Homo sapiens: one gene and its partners. The protein of the gene in region 1 purifies or fractionates together with the protein of each later gene. This does not show direct contact. Each region holds a gene or a part of one and is shown on either strand. Other genes may lie near its edges.

Region 1 (2,927 bases):
TAATGAAATACGTAAACTACAGGCTTCTCGTATCTGCACAATGTTTCAGTGCAAAGAACAAGGAGCATTGCCTTCAGAGCTAGATAAACCAAGTATAAAACTCTGGCTCTACCACCTAGCCATTTGGAGTACCAACTCCCTCCCCCATAAAATCCCTGGCAGAATTACTGTGAGGATATTATATATACATACATATATTCTCATGCATGTGTATGTGTATACATATATACATATATATGTATGTATGTTTTATATAGTTGTAAGGTTATAATACATACATATATTGAGGTTATTTCTTGATGACATTAATATTCAAATCAGTAGACTGATATGTATGTACATATATACATGTATAATACACATACATGTGTATATACATATACTAATGTATACATGTGTATATACATGCATACATGTGTGAATATGTATTATACATACATATGTATATATGTGTATACATATACACGTGCATACATGCTAAATACATATACATATATATACACCTATGTAGTACAGATATGTATATACACATACATGTATACATGTGTATATGTGTATGTATGCATATGTGTGTGTATATTATATGTATATTCATGTATGTATGTGTATATGTATGCATGTATTCTGCCTCCACAAGCTGACAATGTGAGTTAGTTTTAAGATTGGGATATTCAGGAATGCATGTTTGGAACTGAATATGGTTGAGTGAAATATGTGTGCCTTATGAACACTATTTGTTTATAAATTGATAAAATAAAATACTAGAGAGCAGACTCAGGAATAAAACTATGGCTTTAGTATGAACGGTGGCTAAACCTTGCCTTGGGGGACTCAAAGCTCTTTGGAAACCAATCTCTTACCTTCCCCACAACTCCTCATTCACAATGAAAATAACAGCATACCAAAACACAAATACCAAACTTTTATTTTAAAACTGTACAAAAGCAAACAAAAAATTCCACTGAGTCACTGTGATAGTTAATCTTATGTATCCACTTAACTGGGTCACAAGATGCCCAGCTATTTGGTCAAACATTATTCTGAGTGTTCCTGTGAGGGTGTTTCTCAATGACATTAACATTCAAATCAGTAGACTGAGTAATGCAGACTGTCCTCCCAAATGTGGGCGGGCCTTGCTGAATCAGTTGAAGGCCTGAATAGAACAAAAGAGCTAACTCTGCCCTAAGAGAATTCTTCCTGCCTAATAGCCTTTGGACAGGACCATCAGCTTTTTCCTTGCCTTCGGACTTGAATTAAACATCATCTCTTCCTTGGCGTCAAGCCTGCTGCCATCAGACTGGAACTAAACCATCAGCTCTCATGGGACTCCATCTTGCTGACTTATCCTGCAGATCTTGGGATTTAACCGCCTCCATAATCACGTGAGCCAATTCCTTATAATAACCACCGCCCCCCTGCCCCAATATATATTGATTCTGTTTCTCTGGAAAACCTTGACTAATACAGGAACTAACGGAGAACTTCTGACAAACAGAAAGATACAGTTTCTGTTGGATAGAACTGTGTATTCATCTGCAAACTGATAACCAATATCTCCATGGTTAGGCCAGATCGCATATATGATGTGACTTGAAAGCGACGAGGCTTCTGCAATACACACCCAAAAATCAAGGTCATTATTTCATCCTCACACCTAGTCTACCAACTTCCTATTTGAAATCAATACTCTCCAACCTAAGAGGCTGTTTGCTACACAAATACTCAAGTATTGCAGTACAATGGTCTTGTGGGGAAAAAAAAGCTTCTACGTTGGTGGTTAAAACTGCCACTTTTTCTAGCTGGACCTCTCTGAATCTCAGAAAGGGTTGGCACAACAGATTGATTCATAAGACAGTCACAACAGACTCAACAGACTGAGCCTCTGAAGGTCTGGGCCAAGGTCAGAGGGCAACATACAGCTGAGTTCTCTGCAACTGTGTTTCCCAGCTCCCTGATGTGCTCCTGGGGCTTTTCAGGATTATAGCAACTGTATTTAAAGTCGCTGTACCTAGTTACCATCAACAGGCAGATTAGCTTTTGAAAGCATGTACATTAGCTCTGGATATCACCAAACTATGTTGTAAACAGCATCAAGAAAATAGAAAAGGATGGTATGTTTTACTCATCAGCCTTTCCCAATTCATTCCTGAAGAAAGAGGGAAAGAGTGAGTGGTCTAAAACATGCTTGCTTTTAGAGAGCTGACTTTGGGGGGCAGAGGCCAGAACTGAGAGAGAGAAAGGCAGTCCTCAATGGGATAAGTAAGAAGTCAGGGACTGGGGGCCATAACTTCTTGACTAAAGCTTGAGGGCAGGATGAGGCAGAGAAAGTGTCTTCTAAATAACCCCTGGAGTAGCGAACTCTTTTCCCTGAACCTGTGCTGTATCTTGGTAACACATATTCAACATCTCCACCTGCACCTAAACTGATTGTTTGGTTTCCAGGAATCCTCCCTCCAGGTCACTGGGAGCTTCAATTCCTTAGAAGAAAGGTAAGCTTCAGAACTGAGGCCTGGGAGAAAAGTGGTACAAATAGAAACCACAAAAGGGTCTGGATTTGGGTTAAGGTGAAGAGACGTTCCATAATCATGGGGTTGGGCCAGGCGACTGAAGTCCAGGGTGCTGGGCTGGATGGTGATGGGAGCAGGTAATGTGGCATATCCCTAAAAAGAAGGAGCCTTGAGCTCCTGAAGGGCTGGGCCAAGGTCAGGGGGCAAGGACAGGATTATATCCTTCAGCTCTGGGGCCTTCGGGGGTAGTAAAGAAGAGTTCACCTTGAGGGACACATCTCCATTAGCATGGCCTTTCCCTTCTGGCCTGGGGACAATTGATTCCTCTGATTTGTGTAGTTCTGAACAAATGACTAGAGGTGCTGTGTTTTTTCCTCCATCATGAAGGCAAGGTTCAAAGAAAGGGCGAAGGGGGCCAGA
Region 2 (3,500 bases), on another chromosome or scaffold:
CTTGCCCAAAGTCACATCTCAAAAGCAGTAGAGCCAGAAGTGAAACCACATCTGTTCACTTCTAAGGTGCTGGCTCTATACGTTCTATGTCACTCCTTTAAAGGATGAGCAGAGTAAACATTTACAGGAAGAGCCTTAGGAAGACAGAAGAATTTAGCTTATGGTTTCATTGAGGTCACTTTAAAATGTGGGGAAAGTTTGACAAAGAACGTTGGTATGACATGATATGGTAGAAAATGAGTCCTTTATTGTTTTATCATATCAAAATAAGCTCTTTGGATGGTTTCATATCAACTCTTGTTTTGTATTGTTTTGTTTTTTTCAGTCACTAATGACAGATGAAACCATTGCTAATGTGCCTATACTGATTCTTGGGAATAAGATCGACAGACCTGAAGCCATCAGTGAAGAGAGGTTGCGAGAGATGTTTGGTTTATATGGTCAGACAACAGGAAAGGTAAAAAAAAAAAAAAAATTATGATGGGTGTGTTTAATTCTACAGTACAAATGTCTTCTTAAATTACTATTGTCCAACTATACAAGCCCATTATCATTTTCTTAAAGAAAACTGTCATTTATACCTGTGGGTCTTTTTAATGTCCTCATTTCTTTCTACCATGGAATGAAACATTTTCTTGGTGACAACAAAAATGTCAAGGATGAGTTATGCCTAAGGCTTGTGCTTATAGGAAACTAAATTAAAGCTTTCAAAGTTATTTATCATACATTTTCAGAATTAGCCACCAAACGATATATTTGAGTGTTTAAGTATACCAGTAGTGTGTTTAGGCCCTGAGTTTACCAGAGATAAATAAGACATAAACTTGGAATATTTTACGGTTTTCTGAACATATACTTTATAATAAGCTTTAAGACGGATTGTTTTGGTATTCACTTTTCCTAGGATTTATTTTGGGGGAAACATCAGCATTGAAAAAATCCAGATAAACAGTGGAAGAACCCCAGAGATTTACAAAATTTTTTTAGTTTACATATACTATTTCAGGGTGGAGAAATACTGCAGCATATAGCAGGAGGCTCTTTTTTTTTTTTTTTGAGATGGAGTTTTGCTCTTGTTGCCCAGGCTGGAGTACAATGGTGCAATCTCGGCTCATTGCAACCTCTGCCTCCCAGGTTCAAGCGATTCTCCTGCCTCAGCCTCCCTGGTAGCTGGGATTACAGGCGTGTGCCAGCACGCCCAGCTAATTTTGTATTTTTGGTAGAGACGGGGTTTCTCCATGTTGGTCAGTCTGGTCTCGAACTCCTGACCTCAGGTGATCCGCCCGCCTTGGCCTCCCAGAGTGCTGAGATTACAGGCATGAGCCACCACGCCCGGTCCGCAGGAGGCTCTTAAGTCAGACAAAGTAGACTTTGGTCTGTTTTCTGTCTTCTTTTTTATAAATTAGCTTGATATTAATTTTAGGAAATGCTTTGTTTGGTCATAAACCTTCTCAGGGAATGTTTGTCTTTAATATTAGTGAAGCCAGTTTGGATTTTTTTCTAAGTCAGATTATTTTTATTCTTGGGTATCTTGCAAGCTAACCTCTTTCCCACTGAGTGGCCATCCTGCCCTAAGGTAGAGTGAGAGAAGGAGGCTTCTTGTGTGTTCATGGGGCTTGGATGCCAAGCAGCCACGACTTTATCACAGTCATGGATTTATCACAGCCATTCTTTGTTCTAAAATAGAACCTATAATTCTGCTGGGATGTGGGGCTTTATTAATTTTATAAAATTCCAACGAAATGTCTCTCTTCTATTCTAGGGGAGTATATCTCTGAAAGAACTGAATGCCCGACCCTTAGAAGTTTTCATGTGTAGTGTGCTCAAAAGACAAGGTTACGGAGAAGGCTTCCGCTGGATGGCACAGTACATTGATTAACACAAACTCACATTGGTTCCAGGTCTCAACGTTCAGGCTTACTCAGAGATTTGATTGCTCAACATGCATAACTTGAATTCAATAGACTTTTGCTGGTTATAAAACAGATGTTTTTTAGATTATTAATATTAAATCAACTTAATTTGAATGAGAATTGAAAACTGATTCAAGTAAGTTTGAGTATCACAATGTTAGCTTTCTAATTCCATAAAAGTACTTGGTTTTTACAGTTTATAATCTGACATCACCCCAGCGCCATTTGTAAAGAGCAACTTTCCAGCAGTACATTTGAAGCACTTTTTAACAACATGAAACTATAAACCATATTTAAAAGCTCATCATGTTAAATTTTTTATGTACTTTTCTGGAACTAGTTTTTAAATTTTAGATTATATGTCCACCTATCTTAAGTGTACAGTTAATAATTAGCTTATTCAATGATTGCATGATGCCTTACAGTTTTCAATAACTTTTTTTCTTATGCAAACGTCATGCAATAAAACAAACTCTAATGTTTGGCATCCTTGTTGGGCAAATGTTTCATTTAAATGTGTCTTATCTAGCTAGTATACTCTGAAAATTTGAGTATTTAATATTAGGCATATGAAGTGGTTGTTGGGAAAGGAGATTCCTTCAGAATATTTAGAATAGCGTTTAAGGCTCTCAAGGCTTAGGTATTTACCATGAGATGGTTGTGGTCAGTTGCACCTGATACCATGTATCCCTGAATCATGTGTATTTTTATTAGTAATGCAGCCACTACCATTGCTGATGGGGTCTGTGTCCTAGTCCCTGTGGGATTGGCCTTCTGAAGAAAAGCACATTTATGGTACACAAGGTTGATTCTCAGTTTGGTAGGCTCTATAGTTCCATCCCAGCTGTCTAATTCTGAAGTGCTCCAGTCTTATTGGTGCCCAATGGGGTAATCTGTGCCTCTTCCCCAAAAGCAATGACAGGCACCAGTGTCTCCACATTTAGATATATTCCCAGTCTCTGTACATTTAACAGTACTCTCTGGGGCAAGCAATAAGTAGGACCTTGTGTGCAGTTTCATTGTAGAGACATGTATATCTGAGGAATAAAACAGCTTGTTCTGTGTCAGTCTGAGATATGTGGAGATTTTGTTCCTATCCTATAGCTCTTTTGTATTCTTTGGCATATTTTATATCCTGGTAGAAGAAAACAAGTGCTTGTTTCCAATTTTCTTTTTTCTTATTTGCTCTCAGGTAGTTCTTACTCCATACAACAAAGACTTTTTGTTTGTTGGGCTTTTTTTTTTTTTTTTTTTTTGCTCTGTTTCATTTTGTTTTAGAGACGGGGTTTCACCATGTTGTCCAGGCTGGTCTCAAACTCCTGACCTCAAGTGATCTGCCCGCCTTGGCCTCCCAAAGTTCTGGGATTATAGGCGTGAGCTACCATGCCTGACCTGACTTTTGTTTTTAGATATTATGCTTGCCATGTGATAGGGCCTGCAAGCCTCATTGCTAGGCTTACTAAGAAAATTTTAGTTTTTCAAAAGCATTATAATTTCCTAAGAAACTGAATTCTTTTTTTATATGTTTGAGATTCCCATCATTAGTAATATAAGATGAAAGGTAAGTGCCAAAAATGTATTTTTAAA
Region 3 (3,500 bases), on another chromosome or scaffold:
TTGTACCCACTTTATATTTCTCAAAACTACTGAGGAAAAGGATTCCAGCTCATCTTAGGATGCTATCATCAGGGAGTATGTACTATCTATGCATGGCAGCTATCTAATACAGTAGGCAGTAGCCCTGTGTAGCTGTAACTATTGGTTTATGGCTTAGCATTTGATCTATCCTGGATAATGTTCAATAAACATTTGATTAGAATGTGTATTCTGCTGTTGTTGAGTGGAGTGTTCTATAGATATCTGTTTTTTAGTGTTGTTCAAATCTTCTACTTTGCTGATCTTATGCCTACTTGTTCTATTCATTATTGAAAACAGGGTATTGAAGTCTCTTTAATTCTGTTAGTGTTTGCTTCATCTATTTAGGAGATTGGATGTTTGGTGCATGTATGTTTATAATTTTTTTAATCTTCCTTTTGTCATTGTAAAATGTTCCTCTTTATCTCTAGTAACATTTTTTTGTTTTAATGTCTGTTTTGCCTGTTATAAATACTACTATTCTAGCTTTTTTATGGTTGCTGTTTCCATTATATATCTTTTTCCATCCTTTTACTTTCAGCCTGTTTATATTTTTGCATCTATTGTATGTCTCCATAGACAGCATATAGTTGGCTCTTGTCTTTTTATCCAGTTTGCCAATGTGTGCCTTTAATTGGAATGTTTAATCCATTCACACTTATTGTTGTTATTAATATAGTTGGATTTTAAGCTGTCATTTTACTTGCTTTTATATGTTTCATGCCTTTTTTGTTCCTTATTTCTCCTTTATTGCTTTTTCTTAGATTAAGTGAATATGTTCTAGTGAACATTTTAATTCTTTTCATGGTTTTTTTACTATATATTTTTGAAAATATTGTCTTATACATGGAGATTATACTTGTAGTTTCATTCCTAGACCATTTAGTAAATTTCTGTTAGTCTGTAGTGTACCAGAAATCATTATTGCATTTCTTCTATGCATAGTTGGTATAACGTAGGAGGTAACTAAATATAGATTGATTATAAATGAAGATAGAGAAAAGAAATTTGATTCCTTTTTGTCTTCTGTATGACAGGCATGCTATCTGCCAGATATGAAGTCAATATTATTAATATTATGGTTAACTTGATTTTAATAATTTAAAAAAATACTTAGTGCTTTTCTATTATAAGTGCAAGAGATTGGCTAAGTACCATGGAGAGTAGTAAGATCTACAAGAAGCAGATCTGTCATTTTAATGAGTTTTACCATCATTTCTGCTACATTATAGACTAAGAGAAATTCTTTGGATGGCCTGGGAATGAACTCTCTCTGTATAATATGTGCATGTCTTCCCAGACAGGATACAGCATATCATAGGTAAAAACAATAGCGTTTGAATCAGATAGAACTGGCTTAATGTCTGAGCGTCTGCCACATAGTATATGTACCAATTCTTTATGAGTTTTAGGCTCCAGATTTGTAGGGTTTATAATATCTAATTTATAAATTTGCTGTTTGTGTCGAGAGAAAGAACTATTGTATATAAAACCCTCAGCACAGTGCCTAACACCACATGGGATGTGATTAAAAATTCCAAATAAGAAATAAGTACTCAAAAAGATGTAAAGATACAATATCTGTGTAAAATTGGAATGTCTGTTTCCAAAATACACCAGAAAGTAAAAAATATTGAATACTTGTTCATCACAGGTATTTAATATTTGTTGAATGACTGTTGAATTAATTTGTTACATTCTTGGTGATAGTAATTAAGTGTGTAGTATCGTTTTTAATGTCTCCCTCACCCCCCTGCAGTGGTTTCATGCTCAGTGTTCATAGGTAGATTCTTTGGGGGCTTTGGTGGCCTACCCTTTGTGAGGCACTCATTTTTCCTAAAGTGTTATATACTATATGTTTATTTTTTTTAATTAAGAATACATATTTCTTTTTCTGTCTATAGTAAAAAACAAAGTTTTTACTGACACCTGTAATTCTGGTGGTATAGCACAGAGTTCCTTCCAGCCTCCTTCCTTTTTATATTTGAAACTGCCTATTCAACATTAAGAAATGTGGCTCTGGCCACGCACCATTGTTCATGCCTGTAATCCTAGCACTTTGGGAGGCCAAGGTGGATGGATTGCTTGAGTCCAGGAGTTCGAGACCATCCTGGGCAACATGGTGAAACCTTGTCTCTACAAAAAAAAAAAAAGAAACAAACAAACAAACAAAAAAACAAGAAACAGGGCTCCTATTTCCACAATCTGTTTACATTTTTGCTGAGTCTCAGAATGCAGAGAAACTATTGCTTCAGAATTGCTAGCACTGTACCTCTGTGGGGTATACAGTAGCATGGGGCCTAATAATTAGAGTTAAATATTTAATTAGAGTTAAATATTAGTTTAGAGTTGTTTTTGTCTTTAATCTTTTTTTTAATGTATGGTAAATCAAAATTGCTTCAACTATTTATATCTTTGAACTCGTTGTGTTGGTATGTAAGAAAGCTATTGATTTTTTTTGAGTGATAAATTTTATATTCTGCTTTTTTACTGAATTCTTCTATTGTTTGAGTTAATTTTCTCATTCATCCTCCTTGGGTTTTTTTTTGCATGACAAAGAGTCTTTACTTTTAAATGATTATCAGTACACCAAGTAGTAACATGTAACAAGTTCTTGAATTCTGTCCTCTTTGATTAAGTAACTAAAACTGGCCCAAACAATTATACTAGTGTTCATTGTTCTAACCACTAGCAGGAATGGACTACCAGATATTGCAGAAAAAGGCCAAGACTTCACCCCTCTTCTGCCTAAACTGCTTCCAGATGGTTCTCTTCTCCTGGGTCTCCTCTACTTTAATGCTGCAGCTGCCTTGGGATCGCAGGGCAGCAGCCTCCTTGGCCTTGAACTCTTTCTCCCTCTGCAGGCAATATTGTTCAATTTCACCTTGAACTGCTGCTTTGGCCTGCTTCTCCCTCCGGTTCTTTCACTGCAGGTCTCAGACACCCTTTTCAGCAACCTGCAGCAGCTACTGGATCCCCTGAGACTGACTGGCCATGACAGCACCAACTCTGAGGCAGAAGCAAGCAGCCTAAATCTCTCTCTCTTTTTTTTTTTAGAGAATGAATCATATCTGCAAATAGAGATGTTTTACTTCCTCTTTTTCAGTTCCTAGAACTCTAATTTCTCTTGCCTAATTATATTGTTTAGTGCCATCACTACAGTTGTGTTCAATAGTAGTGGAGATGGTGGGCATTCTTGCCTTGTTTCAGTCTAAAGGAAATGCTTACATTGTGTTTGCATTAAGAAAGATGCTGGCCCTGAAGATTTTATCTTTGAAATATAGTACTTTTGCAAGGTACTTCAGGATTACTTGATATGGGTCAATTGTTTTGCCTTGGTACTCAGTGAGTCCTTTCAAAATGTAGATTCAGAATTTTTATTATCTCTGGCAAAGTGTTTTTTTTTAAGATTATAATTTTAAATATTAATTCTGTTATTTTTTTTCTTTTTCAGGGATTCCTATTTTATGCACATTGGATCT
Region 4 (3,500 bases), on another chromosome or scaffold:
TCCTGCCTACTCATCTGAATCAGAATGTTCAAGTCCAAGTCCTGTTATTTTCTTGGATGAAGAGGGATATCAAAAAAGCTTAAAAGCAAAACTTGAGCTGCCTAAAATTCCTGTGATGAAAGATGATATAGAGGATTCAGACTCAGAAGTAAGTGAATTTTTTGATAGTTTTGATCAGTTTGATGAACTAGAACAAACTTTAGAGACTTGCCTGTTTAACAAAGATCCCGTCATAGGGAAGTCATCGCAGAGGAAAGGGCACAAACATGGAAAGTCATGTATGAATCCTCAAAAATTCAAGTTTGATCGTCCAGCTCTCCCAGCTAATGTTAGAAAGCCAACTCCTCGTAAACCAGAATCTCCATATGGTAACCTGTGTGATGCTCCGGATTCTCCTCGCCCAGTGAAGGCATCAAGGGAAGATAGTGGTTTATTTAGTCCTATTCGATCCTCTGCTTTTAGTCCTCTTGGAGGCTGTACTCCAGCTGAATGTTTTTGCCAAACAGATATTGGTGGAGATAGGATTCATGAAAATCATGATTCTGTTTATTACACCTATGAAGACTATGCAAAAAGCATTTCATGTGAAGTACTAGGCTCAGTTCTTCGTACCCACCATACTAATACCCTATCAAATATTAACAGTATTAAACATGGAGAAAATAAAACTGTAACTTTTAAGCATGGAAACCTTGATCAAAAAAATAAATCTAAAAATAAATCCTTAATGATTAAAGATAGCATTCAAAAATTTGCAGCAGATCTTGTGGAAAAAAGTTTTGGCAGTGCATTTAAAGACTTACAGAAAGGAGTCTCTTCATGTACCAATGCTTTGTACCACTTAGCCATCAAATTGACATCATCTGTTTTGCAGATGGCATTTGATGAGCTGAGAAGGCAGCGTGCATTTTCACTAAAAGAACGTGCCATTAGTGGCCTGGCTAACTTTTTGGTGAGTGAAGCTTTATCAAATGCCTTAAAAGATTTACAGTATGTAAAGAAGCAGATATTCACAAACACAGTTGCTAGGTTTGCTGCAGATCTTGCTGAAGAGCTTGTTTTTGAAGGCATCATGGAGGTGTGTCAGTTTTCATATCCTCAAACGCCTGCATCTCCACAGTGTGGGTCGTTTGACTTTGAAGACAAAGTAGTGAAGTTGTATGCAAAAGATTTGTCTGAATCTGTAATACAGGAAGCATTCATTGAGCTATCACAAGTTGATGTGACCTTTACAACAAAGGCAGCAGTTAGTGTCTCTACGGATAATATCAAGTATGTGAGTGCAGAAAGTGTAGTGCCATCGACACAGGCTGTCACGTTTTCCCCTTCTTTTCACAATCAAGCAATTATGGTGACAAAACCAGTGCAGGAATATAAAAAGGAATACACAGTGCAGCAGGCCTTGTTTTGTACTTCTGGAATTGTTACTTCTATACCGGTGCCCTTGGCAGGAAGTGCCCTTCTCCCATATCATATTTCATCTACTGCATGTCAGGCCAAGGCTCATCTGTCATCTGATGATAGTAATTCAAATGGTGATTCTGCCCAAGTGCATATTGCCACAAAAAACAGAGAAGAAAAAGCAGCTTGTCTCAGAAATATTTGTTTACCTTCAGAACACAATCCAGGTAATCAGAATGATTTTAAACCAACTAATGACGATATTGAAATGCAGAGTTCCTCAAAATTACCAAATGATCCTGCAATTATTAGCAACTTTTCTGCAGCAGTGGTGCATACGATAGTAAATGAAACTTTAGAGTCAATGACATCATTGGAAGTTACAAAAATGGTTGATGAACGTACAGATTATTTAACTAAATCTTTAAAGGAGAAAACCCCTCCATTTTCCCACTGTGATCAGGCAGTGCTGCAATGCAGTGAAGCTAGTAGCAATAAGGACATGTTTGCTGACCGGTTATCTAAATCTATTATTAAACATTCCATAGATAAGAGCAAATCAGTGATCCCAAATATAGATAAAAATGCAGTATACAAGGAAAGCTTGCCTGTTTCTGGAGAAGAATCACAGTTGACACCAGAAAAGTCTCCCAAATTTCCTGACTCTCAGAATCAGTTAACTCACTGCTCACTTTCAGCTGCAAAGGATTGTGTTCCAGAATGTAAAGTTTCTATGGTTCATGGATCCTCCCTAGAGACACTGCCATCTTGTCCAGCTGTGACAGGTCAGAAATCTGACTTGAAGGAATCTGCTAAGGATCAACCACTGAAAAAGCATAACTTGAATAGTACATCACTTGAGGCCTTGTCTTTTGGACAGGAAAACCCCTTTCCTCATTCACATACTTTCTCATCTACAGCACTTACCTGTGTAGATGGTTTGCATGTGGAAGATAAACAGAAAGTCAGAGACAGAAATGTAATACCTGATACTCCTCCATCAACTCCTCTAGTACCATCCCGGGCTAGTTCTGAATGGGATATCAAGAAGTTAACTAAAAAGCTCAAGGGAGAATTAGCCAAAGAGTTTGCACCTGCTACACCACCTTCTACTCCACACAACTCATCTGTTGGTAGTTTGTCTGAGAATGAACAAAATACTATAGAAAAAGAAGAGTTCATGTTGAAACTCATGCGATCTCTTTCTGAAGAAGTTGAGAGTAGTGAAAGTGGAGAGCTCCCAGAAGTGGATGTGAAGTCGGAGCACTCAGGGAAGAAGGTTCAGTTTGCAGAAGCATTAGCTACACACATCCTTTCTCTTGCAACTGAAATGGCAGCTTCCCATTTAGATAACAAAATAATTCAAGAACCCAAGGTTAAAAACCCTTGCTTAAATGTGCAAAGTCAAAGAAGTGTGTCGCCTACTTTTTTAAACCCCTCAGACGAAAATTTGAAAACATTATGCAATTTTGCGGGTGATCTGGCAGCAGAAGTCATTACAGAAGCTGAGAAAATAGCAAAAGTCCGAAATTGTATGCTTTTCAAGCAAAAGAAGAACAGTTGTTATGCTGATGGTGACGAAGATTATAAAGTAGAAGAGAAGTTGGATATAGAGGCTGTAGTGCACCCAAGAGAAGTGGATCCGTTTATTCTTTCATTACCACCAAGTTCTTGTATGTCAGGTCTGATGTATAAGTATCCCAGCTGTGAAAGTGTGACAGATGAATATGCAGGTCACCTTATTCAGATACTAAAACAGGAAGGTGGTAATAGTGAGTTGATAATGGATCAGTATGCCAATAGGCTTGCCTACCGATCTGTTAAATCAGGATTACAGGAAGCAGCTAAGACAACCAAAGTGCAGTGCAACTCAAGAATGTTCCCTGTGCCAAGTTCACAAGTGAAAACAAACAAGGAACTGTTAATGTTTTCAAACAAAGAGCACCACCAAGAAGCAGACAAAAAGAGACAAAGTAAAAGAAATGAAGGTTACTTTTGTAAAAATCAAACTTGTGAAAGGACCCTGGATCCATATAGAAATGAGGTCTCCCAACTGTATAGTTTTTCAACCTCTCTGGTTCACAGCATAACAAAAGATG

Evidence for each region.
Region 2: the proteins of ERMAP (region 1) and SAR1B purify together in Homo sapiens (affinity purification with mass spectrometry; one large-scale study listed by BioGRID and IntAct). This does not show direct contact.
Region 3: the proteins of ERMAP (region 1) and AP3B1 purify together in Homo sapiens (affinity purification with mass spectrometry; 2 studies listed by BioGRID and IntAct, with this or other methods). This does not show direct contact.
Region 4: the proteins of ERMAP (region 1) and AKAP11 purify together in Homo sapiens (affinity purification with mass spectrometry; 2 studies listed by BioGRID and IntAct, with this or other methods). This does not show direct contact.

Annotation. Positions count from the first base shown.
Region 1 is NC_000001.11:42,842,966-42,845,892, reverse strand, and holds the end of ERMAP (erythroid membrane-associated protein precursor), read right to left. Parts: coding exon 2,661-2,927; 3' UTR 902-2,660; downstream 1-901. UniProt on the Homo sapiens protein: Possible role as a cell-adhesion or receptor molecule of erythroid cells.
Region 2 is NC_000005.10:134,605,329-134,608,828, reverse strand, and holds part of SAR1B (small COPII coat GTPase SAR1B), read left to right. Parts: intron 1-325; coding exon 326-457; intron 458-1,762; coding exon 1,763-1,879; 3' UTR 1,880-3,500. UniProt on the Homo sapiens protein: Small GTPase that cycles between an active GTP-bound and an inactive GDP-bound state and mainly functions in vesicle-mediated endoplasmic reticulum (ER) to Golgi transport.
Region 3 is NC_000005.10:78,221,699-78,225,198, reverse strand, and holds part of AP3B1 (AP-3 complex subunit beta-1), read left to right. Parts: intron 1-3,500. UniProt on the Homo sapiens protein: Subunit of non-clathrin- and clathrin-associated adaptor protein complex 3 (AP-3) that plays a role in protein sorting in the late-Golgi/trans-Golgi network (TGN) and/or endosomes.
Region 4 is NC_000013.11:42,299,652-42,303,151, forward strand, and holds part of AKAP11 (A-kinase anchor protein 11), read left to right. Parts: coding exon 1-3,500. UniProt on the Homo sapiens protein: Binds to type II regulatory subunits of protein kinase A and anchors/targets them.